Linked DNA regions of Homo sapiens. The protein of the gene in region 1 purifies or fractionates together with the protein of each later gene. This does not show direct contact. Each region holds a gene or a part of one and is shown in the gene's direction. Other genes may lie near its edges.

The links.
Region 2: the proteins of MTMR14 (region 1) and BSPRY purify together in Homo sapiens (affinity purification with mass spectrometry, with the first as the bait; one large-scale study listed by BioGRID). This does not show direct contact.
Region 3: the proteins of MTMR14 (region 1) and ACSL3 purify together in Homo sapiens (affinity purification with mass spectrometry; one large-scale study listed by BioGRID and IntAct). This does not show direct contact.
Region 4: the proteins of MTMR14 (region 1) and FN3K purify together in Homo sapiens (affinity purification with mass spectrometry, with the first as the bait; one large-scale study listed by BioGRID). This does not show direct contact.
Region 5: the proteins of MTMR14 (region 1) and BPIFB1 purify together in Homo sapiens (affinity purification with mass spectrometry, with the first as the bait; one large-scale study listed by BioGRID). This does not show direct contact.
Region 6: the proteins of MTMR14 (region 1) and SCO2 purify together in Homo sapiens (affinity purification with mass spectrometry, with the first as the bait; 2 studies listed by BioGRID). This does not show direct contact.
Region 7: the proteins of MTMR14 (region 1) and FARSB purify together in Homo sapiens (affinity purification with mass spectrometry, with the first as the bait; one large-scale study listed by BioGRID). This does not show direct contact.

What each region holds. Positions count from the first base shown.
Region 1 is NC_000003.12:9,698,005-9,701,504, forward strand, and holds part of MTMR14 (phosphatidylinositol-3,5-bisphosphate 3-phosphatase MTMR14), read left to right. Parts: exon of another isoform or gene 1-206; intron 207-331; exon of another isoform or gene 332-2,488; intron 2,489-3,500. UniProt on the Homo sapiens protein: Lipid phosphatase that specifically dephosphorylates the D-3 position of phosphatidylinositol 3-phosphate and phosphatidylinositol 3,5-bisphosphate, generating phosphatidylinositol and phosphatidylinositol 5-phosphate.
Region 2 is NC_000009.12:113,352,541-113,356,040, forward strand, and holds part of BSPRY (B box and SPRY domain-containing protein), read left to right. Parts: intron 1-1,699; coding exon 1,700-1,798; intron 1,799-3,500. UniProt on the Homo sapiens protein: May regulate epithelial calcium transport by inhibiting TRPV5 activity.
Region 3 is NC_000002.12:222,920,036-222,923,535, forward strand, and holds part of ACSL3 (fatty acid CoA ligase Acsl3), read left to right. Parts: intron 1-1,244; coding exon 1,245-1,395; intron 1,396-2,672; coding exon 2,673-2,796; intron 2,797-3,042; coding exon 3,043-3,114; intron 3,115-3,500. UniProt on the Homo sapiens protein: Acyl-CoA synthetases (ACSL) activates long-chain fatty acids for both synthesis of cellular lipids, and degradation via beta-oxidation.
Region 4 is NC_000017.11:82,734,385-82,738,414, forward strand, and holds the start of FN3K (fructosamine-3-kinase), read left to right. Parts: upstream 1-1,230; 5' UTR 1,231-1,252; coding exon 1,253-1,393; intron 1,394-4,030. UniProt on the Homo sapiens protein: Fructosamine-3-kinase involved in protein deglycation by mediating phosphorylation of fructoselysine residues on glycated proteins, to generate fructoselysine-3 phosphate.
Region 5 is NC_000020.11:33,296,714-33,300,213, forward strand, and holds part of BPIFB1 (BPI fold-containing family B member 1 precursor), read left to right. Parts: intron 1-811; coding exon 812-875; intron 876-1,403; exon of another isoform or gene 1,404-2,131; intron 2,132-2,357; exon of another isoform or gene 2,358-3,140; intron 3,141-3,185; coding exon 3,186-3,271; intron 3,272-3,500. UniProt on the Homo sapiens protein: May play a role in innate immunity in mouth, nose and lungs. Binds bacterial lipopolysaccharide (LPS) and modulates the cellular responses to LPS.
Region 6 is NC_000022.11:50,523,068-50,526,973, reverse strand, and holds SCO2 (protein SCO2 homolog, mitochondrial precursor), read left to right. Parts: upstream 1-1,375; 5' UTR 1,376-1,502; exon of another isoform or gene 1,503-1,532; intron 1,533-2,193; exon of another isoform or gene 2,194-2,549; 5' UTR 2,550-2,562; coding exon 2,563-3,363; 3' UTR 3,364-3,406; downstream 3,407-3,906. Other genes in the region: TYMP (thymidine phosphorylase), read left to right, coding at 236-398, 498-728, 818-973, 1,056-1,204; NCAPH2 (condensin-2 complex subunit H2), read right to left, coding at 3,599-3,739, 3,808-3,906. UniProt on the Homo sapiens protein: Copper metallochaperone essential for the synthesis and maturation of cytochrome c oxidase subunit II (MT-CO2/COX2) by facilitating the incorporation of copper into the Cu(A) site of MT-CO2/COX2.
Region 7 is NC_000002.12:222,642,593-222,646,092, reverse strand, and holds part of FARSB (phenylalanine--tRNA ligase beta subunit), read left to right. Parts: exon of another isoform or gene 1-471; intron 472-1,171; exon of another isoform or gene 1,172-1,208; intron 1,209-3,087; coding exon 3,088-3,242; intron 3,243-3,500.

The sequences.
Region 1 (3,500 bases):
GACCCGAGGTATGAAGGAGGCCTGTGGCTGGTCAGGAAGTGCACTGGTTTGTGTGTTCACTCTGCAGCCTCTAAAACCCATCCACTGGTGTCTCAGGTGCACCCAAAGGGAAAGCTGCTGGACTGTAACTATAGAAGATTCTATTTCTGTATAAGCCTTTGCCTGACATGAGAATCGTTTGAAGGCAGAACAGTGGGATAGTGAAGGTAGGTGTATGGTGGAGGCCAGAGCCAGAGTGGTGCTGGGTTAGCCCGAAGCTTTGCTCCTGAGCAGAACCTAGGGTTACTTGCTGTCTCTACCCGCCTTGTCTTCTGTTTTTGCCTCTGGGCAGGAATAAGAATTGGATGGGGATTCTAGATCCCACACCTACAAAACCCTGAGTTTCCAGCCCTTAACAGTGTGTCCACCTGACTGGAGCAGCTGCCTCTGGGGAAACCACCTGCCCCTGGCCTGTTCTGCCGCTTCATGGATGTCAGGCAGGAGAAAGCCTCTGGTGGCCAGGGGAGCAAGCCCTGCTCCTCAGCTGTGGTGCCTGAGGGCCTCTCAGCAAGCCTTCCATACCATGGGCTGGATGAATGGCACATGCTGGGGCCTTACCACCAGCACCGCAATCCAGCTCATCCCCCCACCCCTGTTGGCAGGTGGGAGGCAGGGTGCCTTGGGGAGTTGGGAAGGGAAAGGGGGCCCTGGATCCTAGCTGAGGGCAGTCAGGAGCCAGTCAGACCTTGAAATTCCAGGATGGCACAGGTCCTGGCTCTGCAGCTGTGAAGTCATCAAAGAGCTTCTGAGGTCACTGTGCCTGGCACAGCCTCCTCTGCAGCCAGCCCCTAGGCTAGAAACAAGATCTTAGATGTTCGAAGGCTTAAAAAAAAAAAAATTGCAGGCCGGGCATGGTGGCTCACGCCTGTAGTCCCAGCACTTAGGGAGGCCGAGGCGGGCGGATCACCTAAGGTTGGGAGTTCGAGACCAACCTGACCAACATGGAGAAACCCCGTCTCTACTAAAAATACAAAATTAGCTGGGCGAGGTGGTGAATGCCTATTAGTAATCCCAGCTACTCGGGAGGCTGAGGCAGGAGAATCGTTTGAACCTGGGAAGCGGAGGTTGCCGTGAGTCGAGATCATGCCATTGCACTCCAGCCTGGGCAACAAGAGCGAAACTCTCTCAAAAAAAAAAAAAAAAAATTGCACCTTTCTGTAAAGACTTCCTACTCCAGCCCCATTTGCCCAAGAGCCATCTCTGAAGGAAGCACAGATATCCCTGCTTGATAGCACTCCTCACTTACCTGGGGTTAGCCACTGAAACAGGCAACTCCAGCCCCAGATCACCCACCCTAGAACCTACAATTTAGGCCCCAGGCAGCACTCTAAGCTGCTAGCCAAGCCTTTAGTTCTGGGAGGTTCTCAGAGGAGGGCTGGATTCCGTATGATCTGAAGGCCTGCAAGACTGTGGGATGTGGTCAGAGTTGATTCCTGTGAAGCCGTGCAGCATGTGGGTTCAGCACTTGGGCTTTGTTATCAGAAAAACTTAAGGCCAAATCCTAGCTGCTCTATTCACCAGCTGTATCTTCAAGTGTCAGCCTTGCCTTTTCTGAGCCTGTTAGCTCATCTCTCAAGAAGGAATGGCACTGTAGTACCTCCCTTGCCTGGTGTGTGTCCTTAAATGGGTCACATAACCTCTCCTCTTTTCTCATCTCTCAGTAGGTGGTGGTCTCTGTCCCTTTCACCTCTCAGAAATGGGCAGCCATGTCAGGGGGGTGGGGCAGGGCAGTGAGAATGCTCATGTATGGATCTTTGGATGTTCCCTGTGAGTGTAAACTCTTGGTCTGTTTCTCCCTCGTATGCTATAAGGAGAAGCTAAGGCAAGCATGCATGGCCTTTGGCCTGTGTGAAATTAGAAAGTAAAAAGATCTCAGGCCATGCTTCTTCCCCAGTTGCCAGGAGAGACTTCAGGATTGTTGATGGTAGTACAGGAATCCAGTCTCAGCTCCATGTTCTTAGTGCTGCTGCAGGAGTGATTTGACTTTTCTTTGCCCCAGAGCCTACTGCTTCCATCTCTCACATTTCACTCCCACCGATCTGCTTTCCCTAGAGTCCTGTCTATCTCCCCCCATACTTACCTCAGGACTGTCATTTATCCTCAGACATCCCTCTGCTCCCACAAGCCCTGGGTACAAGTCATTGAGCCGTTGGGATTGGGTTCACTTCAGCTGCCTCTGACAGATTTCCAGGGAGGGACTGTCCAGGGATTGGTTTCTTGAGGGCAGATTTGGAGCAAGATTAGTAGGCATGGATGGTCTTAGTATTTAGGTGTATGGGAATGTGAGGGCTCTTCTCATGTAAGTCTGTGACCCCTAGAGAGGGCCCTCCAGGGACCCATTGGGGGAACACTATGTGAGTACCTGAACTTTGAGTCCAGAGTCCATGGGCCTCTTCTATTAAAGGCCCTTGGGGATGTCACACAGCCTCATGTGGAGTCATGCTTTGATAAGCCTGAGTTGTGCGCACTTGTTTCCCTTCTTGACTTGTAATTTCAGGGTAAGGAAAGAAGAGGGGCTTTCATCTGTGATCAGAGCCTACAGAGGCCAAGAGAGGAATGGGGAATAGAATCAGAACACAGATCTTTCTGGAAAAGCCAGCACCCTTTCAGCTGTTTACCTGGAAACCACAGTGACTGAAGGTGTAGCTAAAGCCCTAGAGGTTTCCAGTGGGGAACCCTGGCTTCAACCCAGCAGACAGTGGGTTCTTCCAGGGCAATAGCTTCCTCCTAAGATGCGTCATGTCTAGGCCTCAAGGCTGGGGCCTTTTTTTTCTTTTCTTTTTTTTTTTTTTTTAGACACAGTCTCACTCTGTTGCCCAGGCTGGAGTGCAGTGGTGCAGTCTGGCTCACTGTGACCTCTGCCTCCCGGGATCAAGTGATTCTCCTGCCTTCAGCCTCCCAAGTAGCTGGGATTACAGGCATATGCCACCATGTCCAGTGAATTTTTATATTTTCAGTAGAGACAGGGTTTTGCCATGTTGGCCAAGCTAGTCTCGAACTCCTGACCTGCCTCGGCCTCCCAAAGTGCTGGGATTACAGCCAAGGCTGAGGACTTTCAACAGCTGCAGCGTGCTGCCAGATTTCAGGGGCCTCCTTACTGTTAGGTATAAGACTTCATGCCTCAGCTTGCTCTTCCTGAGGAGTGGAAGCAGAGAGCTGCTGGGGCAAATTCCCTCCTGCTTAGCTACCCTCCTTCCCAGTGATCGCAAAGATAGTTATTTTCACAACAGGTCAGGTCAGGCCAGGCACAGTTGCTCACGCCTGTAATCCCAGTACTGTGGGACGCCAAGGCAGGCGGATCAGTTGAGTCCAGGAGTTTGAGACCAGCCTGGGCAACATGGTAAAACCCTATCATGGTGGCATGTGCCTGTAGTCCCAGCTACTTGAGGGGCTGAGGTGGGAGGATGGCTTGAGGCTACAGTGAGCGCTGATTGTGTCACTGCATTCCAGCCTGGGCAATA
Region 2 (3,500 bases), on another chromosome or scaffold:
AAGTCAGGACAAGTTTGGTACATTTAAGGAACAGAAAGAAGGCCAGCATGGATAGAGGTAGAAAGTGATGTTGGAGAAATAAGCTGAGTCACATCAGGTGGGGCTAGGTTGGCTAAGCTAAGAAGCCTGATGTCATTGTGAGTGTACTGAAAGCCATTGGAGGGTTTTGAGTAGGGGCATGACCTGGTCTGATTTCCTTACAAAAGGTGGCTCTGGCTAGCTGGGGGGTTGGGGGTGCAGGGTACCCAGTTAAGAGGTTCTAACAGTGGTTCCTGTGAGAGATCATGGCAACCTGGATAGAATAACTGGAGTAGAGGTGACCAGAGGAGAGAGAGAGACTTTGGAGATGGGGTTGATAGGACTCACTAATGGAATTGATGTGGGGTTGGAGACAAACTCCTGGGTTTTTGGTCTGGGTAACAGGTGAATGATTGATGGTGCTGCTTAATGAATGAGGATAACTTGGCAGAGAGCAGTTCTGGACAGAACAGAAGGTATGGACAGTCAGGCAGCTGAGTATGACGGAGGACCAAGAGTGTGTGCGCCAGAAAGTGGTTATAACGGGCTGAGCGTGGTGGCTCACACCTGTAACATCCCAGCACTTTGGGGGGCTGAGGCGGGAGGATTGCTTGAGCCCAGGAGTTGGAGACCAACCTATGCAACATGGCAAAAGTCCATCTCTACAAAAAATGCAAAAAGTAGCCAGGTGTGGTGGCACGTGCCTGTAGTTCTAGCTACTCAGGAAGGACATGGGAGGATCACTTGAGCCTGGAAGGTCAAGGCTGCAGTGAGTCTTGATCATGCCACTGCACTCAGCCTGGACGACAAGCAAGACTCTATCTCAAAATAAATACATAAATAAATTTAAAAAGAAACAAACGCCTGGGTGCGGTGGCTCACACCTGTAATCCCAGCACTTTGAGAGGTCAGGGCGGGCAGATCACCTGAGGTCTGGAGTTCGAAACCAGCCTGGCCAACATGGTGAAACCCTGTCTCTACTAAAAATACAAAAATTAGCTGGGTGTGGTGACACACACCTGTAATCCCAGCTACTTGGGAGGCTGAAGCAGGAGAATCGCTTGAACCTGGGAGGTGGAAGTTGCAGTGAGCCGAGATCGCACCACTGCACTCCAGCCTGGGCAACCGAGTGAGACTCTGCCTCAAAAAATAAATAAATAAAAAAAAATAAAAATAAACACAAGACAAAATGGACTTTAAGGCAAACATAGTACTAAAGATAAAGTCACTTAGAGAATGTGCAGTTCACCAGCAACATATAATGATTCTAATCTTAAATGTTTCTAAATAATATAGCCTGAGAATATTCATAGAGCAAAAATTTGTTTTAAAGTTATTATAATGATAGGCTGGGGTTCTGGGATGAAGACGGAGGTGAGGTCACAGAAGGGGATGATGGACAGTGAAAGGTAGTCCCACTAGTGTGTTGGTGGCCTCAACTGAGCTGTTGCTGGAATAGGTATCCTAGAATTAGGGAGTGAGAAGGATAGGGCATGGTGGGGAGAGTGTGGATCCTTGAAATGGAGATTTAGGAGGTGGTACAGTTTTTGATAATGATGAGATCTGGGCTATGACCATGGGAGTGGGTGGCTGACATGTGGTAACAGGAGAAAATCACTGGGATGGAGTGAATGGCTCAGGTACATGGACCAAGATGCCACAAGCGTTGTTTGTGTTGCAGAACAAGATTGTGGACCAGTGTGAGAGGCTGCAGTTACAGAGTGCTGCCATCACCAAGTATGTGGCGGACGTCCTGCCGGGGAAGAATCAAAGAGCAGTGGTAATTCCTCTTCTTTCCTCTCTACTCAGCCCCCTCCCAGGATAAGGCCTTAGACTTAGGGACTTGGGCAAGTCTAGGGTCCCTTACCAACCTCACAGACTCATTGTGCTACTAGCAAAGCTTCTCATCCCTCAGAGACTCAATTTTACCATCTGGGCAGGGTGGGCTTGTTCCTGTACCATACTTGGTGCAAAGACTCTGCTAGCAAATGACTTTCTTGGGTATCTTGGCATAGGGGATCAAGAAGGGTCGTATTCTTCTACCATCTGGTCATTTTCTGCCCAGCTGCAGAATTATAAAATAACCTAGGACTTTTACATTGAATATTCTCTGTGACAATCTTATGAAGTAGATAGCAGTAACATCCCCATTTACAAATAGGAAAATGGGTCCTTATAGAGGTTAAAGAGGTTAACTGACCTGTCCAAGGACCCCATAGCCTCCTGGCAGTCGGTTCTGTGACCTGGATCTTCTGTCTCCTAGGCTAGTGCTCCTTCTGCTGCATCCCACTGCTGATTCTTTTTTTTAATTTTTTTTCTTTTTGAGATGGGGCCTCACTCTGTTGCCCAGGCTGGAGTGCAGTGGTGTGATCTTGGCCCACAGTAACCCCTGGTTCAAGCAATTCTCCTGCCTCAGCCTCCCAAAGTGCTGGGATTACAGATGCCTGCCACCATGAGTGGCTAACTTTGTAAATTTTTAGTAGAGACGGGGTTTTACCATATTGACCAGGCTGGTCTCGAACTCCTGGGCTTAAGCCAACCTCCCTCCTTGGCCTTCCAAAGTACTAGGATTACAGGTGTGAGCCGCCATGCCTGGCCTCCACTGCAGATTTTTTTATTCAGTGGACTCATTACCACTGCTGTGTCATCACTTTCAAGTATGCCTATCAGGGGCAGAGCCTATGAATTTCTTTCTGCATATCCCCTCCCTCCTTTCCCTATAGTACACGGAACAGACTTGGTACCACATTAGTCAGAGTTCTTTTAATTGCATGGAACAGAACCCAGTTGAACAAGTATAAGCAAAATGGGGCATTTCCTGACAGGACACTAGGGGTCCTCTTAGGACCTAAAAGGGGCTAGACCAGGAACCAGAAAGCTGCTAGGAGTCCAGGCAGCTACTTGGTGCCCATCTATGCTTTGCTTTTGCATGATGGTCTCCATCTCCCTCCCCTGCCCTCTTCCCCTCTTCTTCTTTATCCTTTTTATTTTCTTGTCTTACTGCACTGGTTATGACCTTAGTACTGTGTTAAATAGAAGCTAGTGTGGCAAATCCTGGCTTTTTTTTTTTTTTGAGACAGAGTTTCACTCTTGTTGCTCAGACTGGAGTGCAATGGCGCGATCTCGGCTCACTGAAACCTCCGTCTCCTGGGTTCGAGCGATTCTCCTGCTTCAGCCTCCCGTGTAGCTGGGATTACAAGCGCCCACCACGACACCCAGCTAATTTTTTGTATTTTTAGTAGAGATGGAGTTTCACCATGTTGGCCAGGCTGTTCTTGAACTCCTGACCTTAGGTGATCTGCCCACCTCGGCCTCCCAAAGTGCTGGGATTACAGGCGTGAGCCACTGTGCCTGGCCCGACAAATCCTGACTTTAAGAGGAAAGCTACCAATATTTCACCAGTTATTTATTTAACAAATCTTTATTGAGCACCTACCATGTGCCAGATACTGTTGTTCAATGGGTTAGGCATTCTCCAGTGA
Region 3 (3,500 bases), on another chromosome or scaffold:
CTAGTAGTATGTGGTTCCTGGAAGCCAAGGGAAAGGAGATCTTGGTGAGTCATCAGCAGGATCAGGGGCTGCATGCAGAGGTCAGATGACACAAGGATTGTAATTTCCAAGAAGTGGTGGTGTTGGAGAAGGGTGCTGTGCATTGAAGGAGTGAAGGGCTGATTTGGAAGTAAAGACTTCCAAGTGTAAACATTATTTAAGAAATGTATCTTGACTGACAGGAGAGGAAGGGTATTCTATTGGGAGTACATTTAAATAATTTTTTCACACTCATTTAGAAGTTCACATGTAGAGTAGTTCTGGGAGTGGTTCAGACATATCAGCAATGCCAACCATGACCTATTTCTCTTTGTTCTTCTGCTGTGCCACCTCTATAGCTTCTCAGCTGTTGTCCTTAGGCTGGTACTCTTCTGATTTCAAATGGTTCACATCGTGTTTTAATGCAGGACTCTGAGTGTAACCAAGTTAGTCACCATTCTGAAGCAGTGAATAGTTTTTAGCAAACACCTAGATACTCTAGTCCAAAGCTACCTTTATTTCTTAGTTGAATTACTGGGATAATCTTGTCTCCCTGATACCTTTTTTCCCCTTGTAAAGTTAGTTAGCCACACAGCAGCCAAAGTGATCTTTTTTTTCACAGATAATAACATACTCCTGTTCAAAACAACATTGCTTTACATCCAGAACGTAATCCAGAGTTCTTCCCGTGGCCTTTGAGGTCCTATGTGTGGTCCCTGATAGCCACTTGACTATTGTTTCTTGCCACTCTTCCTCTTGCTCACTCTGTTCCAGCCACACTCCTTGCTGGTCTTTAGATATGCTGAGCACATTCCTACCTTTGGGTCTTTGCATTTGCTTATTTCCTTCTAATTAGAACACTCTTCTCCCAGTTCCAGGGTTTCCATGGCTCCCTTCCTCACTTTATTCAGGCCTTTGCTAAACGAAACTCTACAGAGACGGTCTCCAGGCTTTTCCATCCAAATAGCATCTATTGTCATCTTCTCACCTTGTCTTGCTTCAGTTTTCTTCATAGGTTAATCTGTTTGTATATCTCAATAGAATATATCTCCCATACGTGCAGGGACTTGATCTGTTTTGTTGATCTCAGTATAACTAATATTTGTTGAATTGAGTTAAATTAACTCAATTTGATTGAGTTATTTATTTGATGATAATGAAAAGAAATTGTTGATACAGCTGAATCTCATGAAAGTGTATGTGTGTGTTTTTTCTCTTCAATGCAGAAAACCAACCTCATAGCAAACCATTGCCCTCAGATATTGCAGTAATCATGTACACAAGTGGATCCACAGGACTTCCAAAGGGAGTCATGATCTCACATAGTAACATTATTGCTGGTATAACTGGGATGGCAGAAAGGATTCCAGAACTAGGGTATGTCATAGTAAAGTAACATTGAGTAGTTAAGTATTTATGTCTGTTATAATGTTAGCATTTGTGTCATTTTATTAATATATGGCTAAATTAGTCCCTCAGAGTCTGTTTGTAGTAGGCATTTCCTTAAAAAATAAAAAAGGACATTAAAATTAATGGCAAAATAGTTATAGTTGTGAGGTTGAAAATATATCATATAGATATATTTTAAAAAGTACAGAACTTAAATTTGTATAGTTGTAAATCCTTTGTTTTAATCAGCTTGTATTTGCTGCTGTAGTTTTTTTTATATCTAAATACAATTCAGGTGAACAGGTAACTTAATTTATCCACTAAGTATTTGTTGAGCTTCAGTATTTGGTCTCTGATTTTTCTTGTTAATACAAACTCCAGTGGTAGCAGTGGAAGGTAGAGTGGAGTGGGGAAGAGACTGATGGAGGAAACCAGATGGAAGTTTGAGGGACTGTCAAGGAAACATTGCCAGAGATGCAATTGGTATTCTGATGACCGATAGGGTACAGTGGTTGGATATTTTTGATGCTTTTATGCACAGAAATTACAAACATACACGCACACACACACTCACGTAATTGCTATGGTACTGAACTTGGGGATGGAGGAATGTCTCTTACGTATGCATACATTTCAGAAAAAATTAAGTGCAACAATTTTCTTACAGGTTTGCCTCAGTTACCTTCTATATTTTGGTTATGGGGGCAGCTCTTGAAGTATATACAAATACTTACACATTTTCTGTATATTAAGATCTAATTTATTATGTAATCCAATTCCCACAACAAGAGTCTTATCTGTAAAATTTCTGGCAGATAGTTGTGGATTCTACTTTAACTCTTCTGGTTGGCAACCCACTAGATGTAAAGACCATTTCCTCCTTGGATGATTTCTTCTGTTCTTCAAAAGAACCCTGTATTATTATTTGTTTAAGCCACTGTTTCTTGTGCCTCAGTACTTTGCTTCAGCAACGCTTATAATTCCTGAGTGCTTTTAAGTAGGACGGGAAACAGCATTCCTTCCTGCAAGTGTGCGCCTCCTTGCTTTTGGGTTGAGCTGTAATTCTTTTTCCCTCCCATCCCCAGCATCTGCCTATCCTCTGTTTTCACCTGTCTCTCTCTCTCTCTCACAAACACATACACACTTGACCAGCAAATTGATGCCCTGGGGCCCTTCCATGTGCCTTCAAGCTTGCTCCCATTATAGGGCACTTTTGGCATAGACGACACCTGACTTTTGTTTCTGACGTCTCCCTTTTCTTTTAGAGAGGAAGATGTCTACATTGGATATTTGCCTCTGGCCCATGTTCTAGAATTAAGTGCTGAGCTTGTCTGTCTTTCTCACGGATGCCGCATTGGTTACTCTTCACCACAGACTTTAGCAGATCAGGTAAGTTCAGTGTCTGTGACTTGAAATACTAAAAAATCATAGTGAATTGTAATGCATTTTTTTCAGTCAGTATGACAGTATATTGCGAGAGCGATGGTTCATTTTAAAATGAGCTTTAGCCTTTTAAGTGCTTCTTAGACTGTAAGTACATTAAAATAATTTATAATAGGCTTTTTGATCTAAGAATACCATTGAATTTTAAAAATAAGGATCACTTTATATGGATCACTTTTTCTTATTTTGTAGTCTTCAAAAATTAAAAAAGGAAGCAAAGGGGATACATCCATGTTGAAACCAACACTGATGGCAGCAGTTCCGGTAAGAAGTGACCCTTATTTAATATTGAGTATTAAAGAAGTATCACCCGCTACAAAGCATTAGTGCTAGTGAAAAATATATTGTTGACAAGGTAGTTTATGTAGGATTTATTCCTTATTGATTATAAATATTGCCTTAGGCGCTATGGGATTTCTTCAGTCTTGTTTTAGCTTGCTTTCTTATTTACTAAGCACTCAACTTAATTTCAGCTTCTGTGTGTAATTATCAACTTGTTTGCCTAAATACCTTCTTGTTAAAATAAAAATTATTTTCATGATATCTGTTGGTGAATTCATTGACACTTGAAGCCTATTGAGAGCTAGGAGGGAAAGTGTGAGATCACCTCCTTTTAAGCAAGCTGTATAGTTACCTCCTGAGTCCTCAGG
Region 4 (4,030 bases), on another chromosome or scaffold:
CGCTAAGCCCAGGTTCCAGTGATCCTGGCCGAGGTGCCAGATGTAGGAGTTAAGGAGCCTCCCGATGACCCCAGCCCAGCTGAGCAAGTGGGCAGGACCGCGGGGATAGGCAGCTCCCAAAGGCTCCCTCCCCGCGGCAGGACCCCTGCATCTCTGTGGGAAAAGACAATTGTTGGGGCCCTAAAAAAAACAGATTTATTGATTAAAACCTCATGCATGGCCGGGCGTGGTGGTTCACGGCTGTAATCCCAGCACTTTGGGAGGCTGAGGCACGCAGGTCACCTGGCCAACATGGGGAAACCCCATGTCTACTAAAACTACAAAATGTAGCTGGGCAGGCCGGGCCGGTGGCTTGACGCCTGTAATCCCAGCACTTTGGGAGGCCGAGCGGGTGGATCACGAGGTTAGGAGATTGAGACCATCCTGGCTCACAGGGTGAAACCCTGTCTCCACTAAAACATACAAAAATATTAGCCGGGCGTGGTGGCGGGCGCCTGTAGTCCCAGCTACTCGGGAGGCTGAGGCAGGAGAATGGCTTGAACCCGGGAGGCGGAGCTTGCAGTGAGCCGAGATCGCGCCACTGCACTGCAGCCTGGGAGACAGAGACTCCATCTCTTAAAAACACAAAAAACAAACAATAAAAAAACCTCACGTCAAATGACTTCAGCACGGACTGGGCTCAGGTGCGCACCTGCTCGTGTGCACGCGTGTGTACCCACGTGTATGCATGCATGGGCGCGCGTGGGCATTCCTGTGTCTCAAGTCCCTTTCCCAGGACATCCTGGAATCAGCAGCCCCACCCTGGGCCGGGTCAGCGCGTGCCATCGGAGCCCCCACGTCAGCCTCTCTCTCCGATCGGCACCTGGCGTCCCAGTGCGCAAGCCCCACGTCATCACGGGGGCCGCTGGGCCCGGCCTGGTCTGCAGTGTGGGAAGCCGGCCAGGCCTGTGACCAGCGCCCGGGCCGAGGGCCGGACCTGCGTCCGCTGCGGGGCAGGGATACCGGGTCCCTGCAGGGAGCTCAAGCCCCAGCGCGCCCGCGAAGAGCTGCGCGGACTCCCGGCTGCTTCCCCCGAATCCCGGGCGCAGGAAGCGCGAAGCCGGACGAACGCGGGGAGCGCGCGGCGAGCCCGCCTGAGGCCGCCCCTCCCGCCGCCCGGGGTCACGCGCCGCGCGCTCCCGCCCCGCCCCGCCCCGCAGCGCCTCAGCCGACAGGGGCTTCCGAGCGAGCAGAGTCCCGCGCCCCGCACTCCATGGAGCAGCTGCTGCGCGCCGAGCTGCGCACCGCGACCCTGCGGGCCTTCGGCGGCCCCGGCGCCGGCTGCATCAGCGAGGGCCGAGCCTACGACACGGACGCAGGCCCAGTGTTCGTCAAAGTCAACCGCAGGACGCAGGTGCTGGCCCGTGCGCAGGCGGGGGCTCTGCGGGTCTCTGCGGGGCCTGGGAAGGCGGAGGGGTCGGGGGCAGGCGCATTTCCTGGGGCTGGGCCTGGGGAGGGGTCAGCTTTGGCCCTTGGGAGGTGGCACCTGCTGGGTGAGCCCGGCTCAAGCGTTCTGTGAAGGTTTGTGTCTGCACGATCCGTGACCTTCCTTTGGCCTCCATGCGCAGCGCACAGGCTTCTAGGGGTGGTTTTAACTTTCCTATCCAGCAAGCGTCGGGGGATGTGAGGCTTGGGGTCCTTGGCTCAGCTCTGGGCCGCCCCTCTCAGCCCACCGTCCTCCTGGCAGTGGGAAAGAAGCAGAGACATGGCTGGGCCCCTGGCAGGGACCCCACGGGCCAGGCCAGCGTTCTCCTTCCCACAGGCCTTGTCTGTGTTTAGACCTGATTTCTATCTCCTGCTGAAAATAGTTCTGTTTAAGAATGTATGGAAGGCCGGGCGCGGTGGTTCACACCTGTAATCCCATCACTTTGGGAGGCCGAGGTGAGTGGATCCCTGAGGTCAGGAGTTCGAGACCATCCTGGCCAACATGGTGAAACCCCGTCTCTACCAAAAAATGCAATAATTAGCCGGATGTGGTGCCACTGGCCTGTAATCCCAGCTACTCGGGAGGCTGAGGCAGGAGAATTGCTTGAACCCAGGAGATGGAGGTTGCAGTGAGCCAAGATCGCGCCATTGCACTCCAGCCTGGGCAACAAGAGGGAAACTCCGTCTCAAAAAAAAAAAAGTATGGAAAATGTTAACGGAGGAAGTGGAGAAGGTTAGCTTCAGCCTTGAGAGCCGGCAGGTGGAGAAAGGCAGGCCTGGGTGCCCTCCCGGCCCGAGTGGGCTCAGAAGGCCCTGCACACTCTGGTGGGGGAGCTCTCTGAGGGGCAGCAGGGGTCCTGGTGGGGAGTGCTGGCAGGAGGAACACCAGAGCCATGCAGCCTGGGCGTGCGATCGGATCCTCCGGCATCACCTGCTCTGCCGGCTCAGAACCAAATCCCTCAAAGTGGGGAGTCCTACTCACAGGGAAGCAGTTTTTGGTTCAGGCTTCCCACGGGCTCTGGGAAACTTCCTCAGCTGGTCCTGAAAGCTCTGCAGGGTGAGACCCCTCCTTCCCTCCCACCCCCACGAGGGGCCGGCACATAGTAGCTGCTCAGTCCATGCATAAGAGCAGGTGATGCTGGGGCCCCTGGGGCTTAGCAGCCCCAAGGCCGGGAGTTCCTGGCCTGGTGCATGGGGGGCTCGCCCTGGAGCAGGGCTGGGGTGTGCCGGCCGCCCTCCCACCTGTGGACACTCACACCCACCCTCGGTGCAGGCTGGCCAGGGCTGCCAGGCTGGGGAGGCTGTGCCTGGGCTTTCCCTGGGGTACTTTGAAGGAAAGGGCGTTCTGTTCGTGTGCACCAGCAGATGCTTTGGTCTCATTCATGAGGTTTGATTTTTTTAAACATGCAGTCCTACACTTTGGGCGACTGAGGAAAGGTGGATCACTTGAGGCCAGGAGTTTGAGACCAGCCTGGCCATCATGGTGAAATTCCATCTCTTTTTTTTTGAGACGGACTCTTGCTCTGTCGCCCAGGCTGGATCTCGGCTCACTGCAAGCTGCGCCTCCCGGTTCACTCCATTCTCCTGCCTCAGCCTCCCGAGTAGCTGGGACTACAGGTGCCCGCCACCTTGCCTGGCTAATTTTTTGTATTTTTAGTAGAGACGAGGTTTCACCGTGTTAGCCAGGATGGTCTCAATCTCCTGACCTTGTGATCCGCCCACCCCGGCCTCCCAAAGTGCTGGGATTACAGGTGCGAGCCACCACGCACGGCGGTGGAACTCCATCTCTAGTAAAAATACAGAAAAACACAGCGGGGTGGGGTGGCCCACACCTGTAATCCCAGCTACTCAGGAGGCCGAAGCAGGAGAATCGTTTGAACCCAGGAGGCGGAGGCTGCCGTGAGCCGAGATCATGCCACTGCCCTCCAGCCTGGGTGACAGAGTGAGACCCTGTCTCAAAACAAACATGCAATTCTATAGGCCAAGGTATTCATGGACCACGTTCGTCAATGCATGTTTTCAACCAATGTGTACTGTACGTGAGGTGAGTGTTCACCTAACTGAAAACTGGAATGTTTGTGGGAATATTTCAGAAACAGGAAGGCCCAGGTCCCACGGGAGGCGTTGGGGGCCGGCCGGGTGTGCCGTGCCTTTTACCTTCCCAGCCCCTGCCCTGGACCTGAGGCCCCGCCTGATGGGCCCAGCCCTCTTCTTCCCTGCCTGACGTGTGTGCCCAAGTTAGCTCCAGTGAGGCCTCTGCTGTGGCTGCCCCACCCTAAGAGGCAGCAAGGAAGGTGGGTAGCCCGGGGGTCCAGCTCTGGACCTTGGTTCACTCACACCTCCCCACGCCCTCAGTGCTCCCGGGCACCCACACGTGGCCTGTGCATCCTCCTGTCACAGCAGCCTGCAGACCCCACACCCCTCACGGCCCAGGCTCAGCCTCAGCCTTGCAGCCTCTCGTCTCCGACGGGGGGCCCCTCTGCACCCTGCCCTCTGTGGTGGACGCCAGCTCCCAGCCAGAGCCAGCTATCAGTGAATGAAGGTCCTTGTGACTCCCACGTGGTAG
Region 5 (3,500 bases), on another chromosome or scaffold:
AAATCTCCCCCTGTTGAGGACTGCTGGCAATTTTAGGAAGAGAAGTGCCCAGTGAGCAAAGGGATGTGTTGGGCTAGAAAGCCACAAAGGGCACAAAGAGATTGCCCAGGAGTCTGGTTGGGTCTGCCTTGCTGGCCTCTGTTCCAGAGTCTGACATGTGAAAAGAACTCAGTAGCAACTTGCTGTATGAATAAACAAATTCTCCATTTAACTCTTGTTTTTTCTTTTAAAGTAGAGTCTTGCTCTGTCACCCAGGCTGGAGTGCAGTAGCACGATTCCAGCTCACTGCAACCTCCACCTCCCAGGTTCAAGCAATCCTTGTGCTTCAGCCAACCAAGTAGCTTGGATTACAGGAGTGCACCACCATGCCTGGCTTTTTGTATCTTTAGTAGAGATGAGGTTTCACCATGCTGGCCAGGCTGGTCTCAAACTCCTGGCCTCAAGCGATCCACCCACCTTGGCTTCCCAAAGTGCTGGGATTACAGGCATGAGCCATTGCGCCCAGCCTCCATTTCACTCTCATGGAAAACATAGACACCTGTGAGCAAGACAAGGAGTCAGAGAGGGAGGGCTGCTGGCAGGCCAAGCACACCCTGGGCACAGGGAAAGGGACAAACCACTGCAAAAGGTCCCAGGTGGCCCTGCAGGCTGGGTTCAACACACGAATGAATCCTCAACCCATGGATGGAACCTGGCTGGCCATGGGCACAGCAGTAGGACACAGGCCAGGTGGGCTGGGCACAGCCCGGGGCTGCTGTGGGGCTGCATTCTGGCCCCTCCCTGATGGAGCCCCTTGCTTATGCTGTTGCAGCTGTGTCCCGTGATCGAGGCTTCCTTCAATGGCATGTATGCAGACCTCCTGCAGCTGGTGAAGGGTAGGTGCTCTGCTCTCTCTCCCACTTTTTCCTTTACTACGGAGCTGGCCTCCAGACCCTGACTCCACCAAGGGAAGGCCTCCCCAAGTCAGGCCTGAGCTGCAACTCAGGCCCAGAAGCAGGTGAGACAAGCATCAGTTGATCCCTGCCCCAGACGCGCAGACAGAAATTCGCCACGACTAGGACTTCATGAGCTCTTACTATTTGTGCAGTTGTCAGGTCAGTGGATGCCCCAAGTTCAAATCCCAGCTCTGCCCCTGACTTGCTCCATGACTTTGGGAAAGCTAATTTACCTCCTCATCCTCGGTTTCCTCATCCATAAAATGGGGCTTAACCATCCCTACAACATAGGATTGTTAGTGAGGAATAAAAGTCTACAGGAAAGTTCTGGGCACATAGCAGGTGTCCCTCTTGGCACAGAGAAGCACTTACAAATGCATGCTAAATGGATGGATGGATAGATGGATGGATGGATGGATGGACAGACAGAAGATGCTAAGATTACAAGCATGAGCCATCACACGCAGCCCCCGGACTAGTTTTTATGGATACTTTAGAAAACTGCAGCATCAAATAGTTCTATCCATCTCGTTGCAGTTTCAAATTTTCCCTCCATCCAAAGGGTTTGAGGTATCTGAGAAATTAAAGCATGGGTTAAAAACTGAGATATCTGGTTTAAAAAATAAAAATCAGAGATGATTCGAAGGGCAAAGACGGAAGGAAGTCATTTCTCCCTCCCCCAGCATAGCAGATACGGGAGGGCACAGGCTCCTGCCCCCACATCAGAACTCTGCCATGCTCAGGCCCCCAGAGTGGAAACTGGCGGAGAAGAAGAAAAGTCTACCAACTGCACTTTGGGATCAGAAGAGGCTCATTCCAAGGGCGACCAGAGAGGAGAAGGGAGAGCAGCATGCACTGAGCGCCACAGGGCATCTGCCATGGGCCACGCCCTCCCGCTGGGTGTTTTGTATAGGCACATCTCACTGACTCCTCAGACAACTCCATGAGGTGGCAGTCATGACCCCCCTTCACTGTGATGAAAGAGGCTCCGAGCAATGAAGTCACTGTCCAAGTTCACAGAGGCAGTTGGTGATAGAGGAAGACTTGAGTTCTGAGCGAGTGTCATTCGGATTGAGCCGTTACTAGGTGCCAGTTGTATACATGAAGCAGGAATTACTATTCTACCGCCGTTTCTTTCCTTTTTTCTTTTTTTTTTTTTTAATTCCCAAAGAGTTCTTCCAATCGTCAGATATTTGGTCAGTATTCAGAGTAGGATCCAGAGTTCACACATTACATTTTGTTGACAAGTCTGTAGATTTCTCTTTGTAAATCACATTTTTTTGTTGTTGTTATAGCCATTTTCGGGGACCTTATTGACTTTAATATACTTTTTTTTTTTTTTTGGAGACGGACCTTTTTTCTTTTTTTAAAGTAATTTTTACAGGAGTCATGCTCATCGTCTCTATGTCCTTCCGATTTTAGTACATGTGCTGCCCTGGCGGGCACTATACCCTCATTTTAAGACGAGGAAACAGATTCAGACGCGAGAAGAGACCAGCCAAGGTCACTGGGGCTCAAACCGAAGTCCAGCTGGCTCCTCCGCTGCCCCGAGGACGGGCCCGGAGGTCTCCCTGGAGCGGTAGGCGGCCGGTCCCTGGCCCTCCAGCACTCCCCATCCTCGGCCATACACCGGGGCAGGTGACACACCACCGCCACCTGGCGGCCAAGTGGGGAATTCTGACGCGAACACGAGATCTTTGGGGGGAGCAGAGGAGCCAGTTTGGATTTCAGAGTAGATGTTACCAGGCCTCTGGCTTCCAGCCTAAGCTTCCTTGAGATCCAGGTGCTCATAGGGTGTCCAGACCCAGAACCACCTGCATGGGGGACGCGGCTTTCAGTCTGGTAGGGGCGGTGGAGTGTTACATACAATAGTTCAGTTCCGTTCCAAACCGGGACTTTGGCATAAAACCGACTGGGTTCCCATGCTCTCATAGTATGGCTTTGAACAGGTCATTTCCCTTTCCTCAGACTTGGTTTCACCATCTGTAAAAGGGGGTAATAATAAGACCTACTTCCTAACGTTATCATGCAGATGAACCAGCTGACATGCAGAGGCCTGGCACTTAGTGGATGCTCGATAAATGTCACTGTCATCACTGTTTGCATCATTATTATCAACATCATTATTACCTGCTCCTCCCTACCTGCCCCCCCATGCAACAGTACAGCTCCACCTGGAAGCAGCCCCCCAACTTCCCCCTCCAATACTGCCCTCCACCCTCACAGAACTTTCTTCTTGTCCTTGAGCAGTGCCCATTTCCCTCAGCATTGACCGTCTGGAGTTTGACCTTCTGTATCCTGCCATCAAGGGTGACACCATTCAGCTCTACCTGGGGGTGAGTGTCCCAGGACCTTGAGGGTGAAGTGGGGACATTGCTGCCCTTCTCTGACCACCAGGAGTCAGATAGCATGGGCCTGTGTTAGGAGAGAAAATCCTGGTCACCATTAGGACACGGGCTGATCTAGAAAAATCACTGCAGGCTGAATATGTCCCATGCAAGTTTGTTTTGTTTTGTTTTTTTGAGACTGAGTCTCACTGTCACCCAGAGTGACATGGGGGGGCCC
Region 6 (3,906 bases), on another chromosome or scaffold:
GGCCTGGACCTGGGGAAGCCCTCTGTGGCGTTCCTGCCCCAGACCAAGTACAAGTTCCTCCTGGCCCCATGGCGAGGTGTCGCACTTCACTCGTGTCTCTTCCCCACCCCAATCCTTCCCTGACTTCATGCTGGGGGGCTGGCAACCCAGGGTGCAGCAGGGGCTGGAGTTCGACCAAGAACCGGCTGCAGAAGGCCCCGCCATGGGGGGTCCACGCTGAGCCTCCTCTCCGCAGGTTGGCGTGGGAGCCAGCCTAGGGCTTCGGGTCGCGGCAGCGCTGACCGCCATGGACAAGCCCCTGGGTCGCTGCGTGGGCCACGCCCTGGAGGTGGAGGAGGCGCTGCTCTGCATGGACGGCGCAGGCCCGCCAGACTTAAGGGACCTGGTCACCACGCTCGGTGAGGGGGACGGGGTGTAGGGGAGCGGAGGCGGCGGGGGGTGCTTCCCGCTGGGGCCGCCCCGACCCGGCCGCGCCTAAGACCCGTCCCCGCCCGCAGGGGGCGCCCTGCTCTGGCTCAGCGGACACGCGGGGACTCAGGCCCAGGGCGCTGCCCGGGTGGCCGCGGCGCTGGACGACGGCTCGGCCCTTGGCCGCTTCGAGCGGATGCTGGCGGCGCAGGGCGTGGATCCCGGTCTGGCCCGAGCCCTGTGCTCGGGAAGTCCCGCAGAACGCCGGCAGCTGCTGCCTCGCGCCCGGGAGCAGGAGGAGCTGCTGGCGCCCGCAGATGGTGAGCGTCGGGGGAGTCCCCGTCCTTCCGCCTCCGCCATCCCCTTCCCTTCCCGAGGCCCCGCCCCTTCCCGAGCCCGCGCCTCTCAGCCCCTCTCCCCGCAGGCACCGTGGAGCTGGTCCGGGCGCTGCCGCTGGCGCTGGTGCTGCACGAGCTCGGGGCCGGGCGCAGCCGCGCTGGGGAGCCGCTCCGCCTGGGGGTGGGCGCAGAGCTGCTGGTCGACGTGGGTCAGAGGCTGCGCCGTGGTGAGCGCCGCCCCCGCCCTGCTGGCCCCGCACCCCCGCCCAGCTCCGGCCGCGCGGCCTCTAACAGCCCCTCGCTCTGCAGGGACCCCCTGGCTCCGCGTGCACCGGGACGGCCCCGCGCTCAGCGGCCCGCAGAGCCGCGCCCTGCAGGAGGCGCTCGTACTCTCCGACCGCGCGCCATTCGCCGCCCCCTCGCCCTTCGCAGAGCTCGTTCTGCCGCCGCAGCAATAAAGCTCCTTTGCCGCGAAACCTTGTCAGTGCTTGGGCGGGAGCGGAAGGATCCAGGGCTGCGGAGGCGGGGGCCGTCTCGATGAACACGTGACCCCCGGCGGGCTCCGCCTTCCGCGCACGCGCTGAGAGCCTGTCAGCGGCTGCGCCCGTGTGCGCATGCGCAGCTCCGGGGACGCCTGCGCCCTGCCTGTGAGCGTGTGGCGCCCGCTTTCCCTGAGCCGGCGGGGCAGAGCGCAGGGAGCTGGAGGTCGGCGCTTCCTCTCGTGCTTGGTCCACTGACGCGCGGCCCCGCCGCGAGGTGCGGACGCCGGGGCTGGGAGGGGAGGAGGTAGCCCTGAGGACTCGCTGGACTCCGGGGTAGTTTCCCAGCTCCGGCTACTGCGCGGGGCTGGCGGGGCACACCCCAGGGCGCGCTGGAGGCCGGAGCGAGGCTGGGGCGCCCGTGGGAGGCTCCCAGCAGGCACCGGTGTTCTCGCGGCCAAGCACAGTTATAACGCGCTCGCGCGGCGCTTCGAGTGGTCCTGGAACCTTTCTGGCCACGAGGGCGCTGGCCTTGCTGGGGAGGGCACAAACCCAGAACCGCCCGGGCGGGGGTGCAGTGAGTCCTCGGGAGGGTGCCCTCAGCAGGAGGGGGCAGTGACCGGGAGTCCTGAGACCTCCACCTAGCAAACCTTCTGCGGGGGCCCGTGGGAAAGGCTCAAAGGTCACCAACGCAAAGGCAGGGCGTCGGCTGTGAGCCCGGAGGAGCTGCTGGGAAGCCTGGATGTGAGGAGGGTGGGGTTTTGTGGCGGGTGGAAGTGTCGTGCGTCTCTGCCAGGAGAGGTTAAACACAGCCGGCGGGCAGAGTCTGAGCTCCGGGGGTAGGTCGTGCAGGTTTTCTGCTGGGAGTGTGGAGGAAGGCCGCGGTTGGTTGAAGTGGCTGGAGGTAACAGGAAAGTGTTGGAGGAATCGGTTGCTCTCGGGGATTGCAAGCCAGAGAGTTACCCACCTCCTTTTAAGAAATGGGTTTATTGCAAATAGATAACGTGGTTAGTTCAGGCAAGGCATGCACTTGGAATGCTTTCCGTCAGCAAGAGGTTCACCTTGCTGAGGTGCAGGTGCAGGGCAGGGTGCGGTGACAGGCTGGTGATCCCAGGTAGAGGACAGGAGTGACAGGTGTGGTTGCCCAGGTGTGGATGTTTGGTGGAGGTGGAGTTCTGAGCTCAGGTGAGCAGCTGCAAATGCCTGTTAAGCCTGAACGTGGGCTGGGTCCTTCAGATGGGTGGCTGGTCTCAAGTCGCAGGGGCAGCCCAGGCACTGTCCTGGGCCTTCCCTTCTGGCTCCTGACGCCTGTGCTTGTTTCCAGGAGCATCAGATCCATGCTGCTGCTGACTCGGAGCCCCACAGCTTGGCACAGGCTCTCTCAGCTCAAGCCTCGGGTCCTCCCTGGGACCCTGGGAGGCCAGGCCCTGCATCTGAGGTCCTGGCTTTTGTCAAGGCAGGGCCCTGCAGAGACAGGTGGGCAGGGCCAGCCCCAGGGCCCTGGGCTTCGAACCCGGCTGCTGATCACAGGCCTGTTCGGGGCTGGACTCGGTGGGGCCTGGCTGGCCCTGAGGGCTGAGAAGGAGAGGCTGCAGCAGCAAAAGCGAACAGAAGCCCTGCGCCAGGCAGCTGTGGGCCAGGGCGACTTCCACCTGCTGGATCACAGAGGCCGGGCTCGCTGCAAGGCTGACTTCCGGGGCCAGTGGGTGCTGATGTACTTTGGCTTCACTCACTGCCCTGACATCTGCCCAGACGAGCTGGAGAAGCTGGTGCAGGTGGTGCGGCAGCTGGAAGCAGAGCCTGGTTTGCCTCCAGTGCAGCCTGTCTTCATCACTGTGGACCCCGAGCGGGACGACGTTGAAGCCATGGCCCGCTACGTCCAGGACTTCCACCCAAGACTGTTGGGTCTGACCGGCTCCACCAAACAGGTTGCCCAGGCTAGTCACAGTTACCGCGTGTACTACAATGCAGGCCCCAAGGATGAGGACCAGGACTACATCGTGGACCACTCCATTGCCATCTACCTGCTCAACCCTGACGGCCTCTTCACGGATTACTACGGCCGGAGCAGATCGGCTGAGCAGATCTCAGACAGTGTGCGGCGGCACATGGCGGCTTTCCGCAGTGTCCTGTCTTGAGCCACTGCAGTCTGGGCCCCATCATTAAACGGGCTGCGTTTAATCTGTGTGTGTGTGTGATCTGTACCAGCGGCCCAGGGAGGCCAGGCAGCCCTCTTCTCTGCGCAGGTGTACATAAAAGGGTTTTTAGGGGGAAGATGAGATGGCAACACTGCTTTATTAGGCCGGGCCAGCCAGGAGCAGACACACGGCTCCTCAGTACACATTCCCCCACCCCTGCCTCGGTGCTCCCCACTCAGGGCTGGGCCATGGAGGGGGCAGCGTAGGTCTGGAAGCGCTTGTGCGCTCGCTGGTGCGTGAGCAGTCTCAGGGACATGGTGTCCACGGCCATCTCCAGCCCGGGCTGCTGGGTTATCTCCACTGTGTAGTCATTGGCCTGCAGGGGTGGCACATCAGCAGGGTCTGGGGACCGTCTCCCCCTCCCACGTATCCCAGGCTACTCACCAGCTGCAGGGAGGCCAGCATGGAACGACACACCTCGAAGGCCGGCTGGCCAGCCACCAGCTCCGCAAAGGGACACCACTCATTGAGCTGGGGGAACCG
Region 7 (3,500 bases), on another chromosome or scaffold:
ACACCTAGTAAGATTGGCATTTTTTTAGACTGTGAAATGAATGAGGTTTCCTTTTATAATTTGAATGATAGATCTCTTCTCTGTACTTTTAATGATGATTTTACAGGAGAACTTTGGCCTTATTTTTATACTGGAACTGACTCAAAACCTCTTAAAATTTCTACAGTAACAGATTCTGTATTTTCTTTCACCTAGTAGACATAACTGAGCCAGTTAATCTAGTTTTGGCCATTCTGTATTTTGTCCAGTTTTTCTCATAAAAAAACAATATTTTTTATCTCAATTTCAGCAACTTCCAAAAAATGTGATTATGGGACCTACTTTATAATAAATTATGGGGTCAATGACAAAGTACTTTAGAAATTCTATGGTAAAATACTTGAAAAATATATTACTGAAGGAACGTATTATGTAAGAAAATCTATTACTTTTGTAATTGCCAATAAAAGCCCAATTTTTTTCTCAAAAAAAAAAAAAGACATACTTTAATTTAAAAGATAATTTTCTGATAGTTAGTATTATTTTTTTCCTAAGCCTTCTATCTTCACCTATTCAGTGCTTTTATAACACTACCTTAGGTGTAAAGTTAAAAAATGTTCAGGCTAAAAAATTGTACATTATCTTACCTTATTTTTCCTGCTGCCTTACTAATGTTACAGAAAGATCATCTTTGTACTAATCTATTTGTATACTTGAGAAATTGGCTGAGATTTCTGTAGTTTATAAGTTGCTATTCGTAATTTTACTACACCTCAGAATTATGTTTGAAATTATGTGATATCTAAGAGTGTTGGACTGGATGTTAGATTATTTGAGTTCTAGTTCTAACATTTACTAGCTGTGTAACTATGGACAATTACTTTGCCTGTCTGAACTCTATAGTCCAGACGAGTCTCTCTGGGCCTCCTTTTCATTTGTGAAATAAGGGGTTTGGATTATATGATCTTTATGGTTTTCTTTTTTGACTCTGAAATTTATGTGATTTTAAATTTCTGTAAGATTATTGTCAGGTAGCACTGACAAATTCAGTCTTTACATATGGTCATTGTATGAGCTGAGATGCTGAAACTGAAAGAAGATGTAAGCTTCTGTGTCTTTTTTTTTTTTTGCAAAGGAATTAGATCTTTTTTTACAGTAGTTCCTCCTTATCCACAGTTTTTTGCCTCCACAGTTTTGGTTACCTGCAGCAAACTGTGGTTTGAAAATAGGTGAGTATAGTACAATAAGAAATTCTGAGACAGAAAGAGACTACATTCACATTACTCTTATTATAGTATATTATTTTAATTGTTCTATTTTATTATTAGTTGTTAATCTCTTACTGTGCCTAATTTATAAATTAAACTTTTTCATAGGTATGTATGTATAGGAAGAAACATGGTATATGTAACATTTAGTCCTATCCAATGTTTCAGGCATCCACTGGGGAGCTTGAAACATATCCCCTGTGGATAAGGGGGTGCTGCTGAAAAATGAATGCAGATGCCTTCATTTCTCCGGTTATTATATTATCTTCTCTGTATATAGGTCCCTCCTGAGATCTGCCATCTCCTGGGAGGTGACTCAGCTTTCTTCACTATTGAAACAGTAATTTTATTAACCCCTTTGATTGAACATTGTTTAAACTCGAATTCTTCCTCTTCTCTTTTTGCCTCTCCCCATTCCCCTTCTTTTCTTTTCCCCCTTTTTACTCCTTCCTCCTCCTCTTCATTCTCTTGTTTTTCATTTTTCATTTTCCCTAATTATAAAAATTTGCCTCCTAAGTTTGAGATGCCCAAGGTAGAGGTTTTTTGGAGCCCAGCACCACCTTGTACAGCCCCAGCATTGCATAGACTCCTGTGGTTCCTCAGGTGGGACTTTGGCACATAATACTCGTGGCCAGAAGTGAATTTCTCTGCATATTGTGCAAATGTGGATATAATTCTTAATTTGGACAAAAATTTGAACTACTTATATTGTGGCAGTGGGAGGGCATCATGTAAAACAAAAATCATTACATATTTTGATAGAAATCCATCAGTTATTTTAGCAGGTTGTTGGTGGTGGAAATAGTAGGAATTCTGGTTAAGTGGAGTTTCCACATAATTAAAGCGTAACATTAACAGTTGGAATACAACTTGTAATCATTTCAAGTGAAAATTTCTTAAATATATTTACAGTTCCCTGCTGTAGTAAACATAAGGAATAGAGTGTAACTTCTCTGCAGTGGTTATGTTTAAGAAAATCTGTTACTCTGCTGTAGTGTGGTGCTTGAGATATTCTAAACTCTTTGCCACTGCATTAAACGTGATTCTAGTGGTGTTTCTTCTGTCATCTCCCTCTTGGCTGCCTTCATTCTGCTGCACTATCCCTTTGCTATCACTAGTTTGCTTCCCATTGTACCTATTATCCCTTCTAATTTTTACCAGTGTCTGATGGTCTCTGACTGTTTTTAGTTTTTATACTACCCCTCTCATTCTCATGTGGACTTGGGTGCCCACAGGATTTAGGTTTTAGAGTCATCCTATAAGAAGTTGTGTTTCTTTTATTTAGTGAATCATCTTTCTTTTACCCCTTTGACACTTTTGTTGTTGTTACTTTATGTTCTTGGTGATGTTTTAATTTTCTTTTAGCTTGAGATGGGAAAACTTTTTCTGTAAAGGGCCAGATAGTAAATATTTAGGCTTTTTGGCTCTATAGTCTCTGTTACAACTCAGCTATTGCAGTGTGTAAGTAGCAGTAGATAATATGTAAATGAATGGGTCTGTCTGTGTTCCAATAAATCTTTATTTACAAAAACAAGTATCAGGTATGATTTGGCCAGGGGGCTATTGCTTGCTGACCCTTGTTTAGATGGATTTGTGCTTTTCTGGGGTGATTGAGGTTGCCAGATATCTGAACTCAGTTAAAGCTGAAGTATTTTTCTGTCTGCTATGATTATAACACTTAATATTTTCATGTTGTTTTTGTCGTGGATATAATAATCCCATGTTCTTGTTATAGAAAATATGTATAATGTAGTTACTGCCTTATAGGGCTGACAACTTTTACTTTTTAAAGAGAGTTTAAATTATTTAATTTTTATCATTACTTTTTGGCTTGTTTTAGACATCTGAGAAGGAAATAATAAGTAAAGAACAAGGTAATGTAAAGGCAGCAGGAGCCTCTGATGTTGTTCTTTACAAAATTGACGTCCCTGCCAATAGATATGATCTCCTGTGTCTGGAAGGATTGGTTCGAGGACTTCAGGTCTTCAAAGAAAGGTAAGGAAATATGTTCCTTAAAGACTTTGCTAAGTTGGGTTTTCTTTTCTTTCCTTGTCATTATCAGCAGCCATGTTTAAATTTCTAGGAAAAAGCTTGTAGAGGAACGTAGCTTTAGCTCTCAATAGAGGGTTGATTTGAGGAATTAGATTCATGCAGATTGTAGCCATTTGAAAATTTCCATGAAAATTTTAGTCATAGCCATTCATCTTTGAGAACATATTTTAAAACTGGTGTTTAATGCTTTTATGGCGTCTT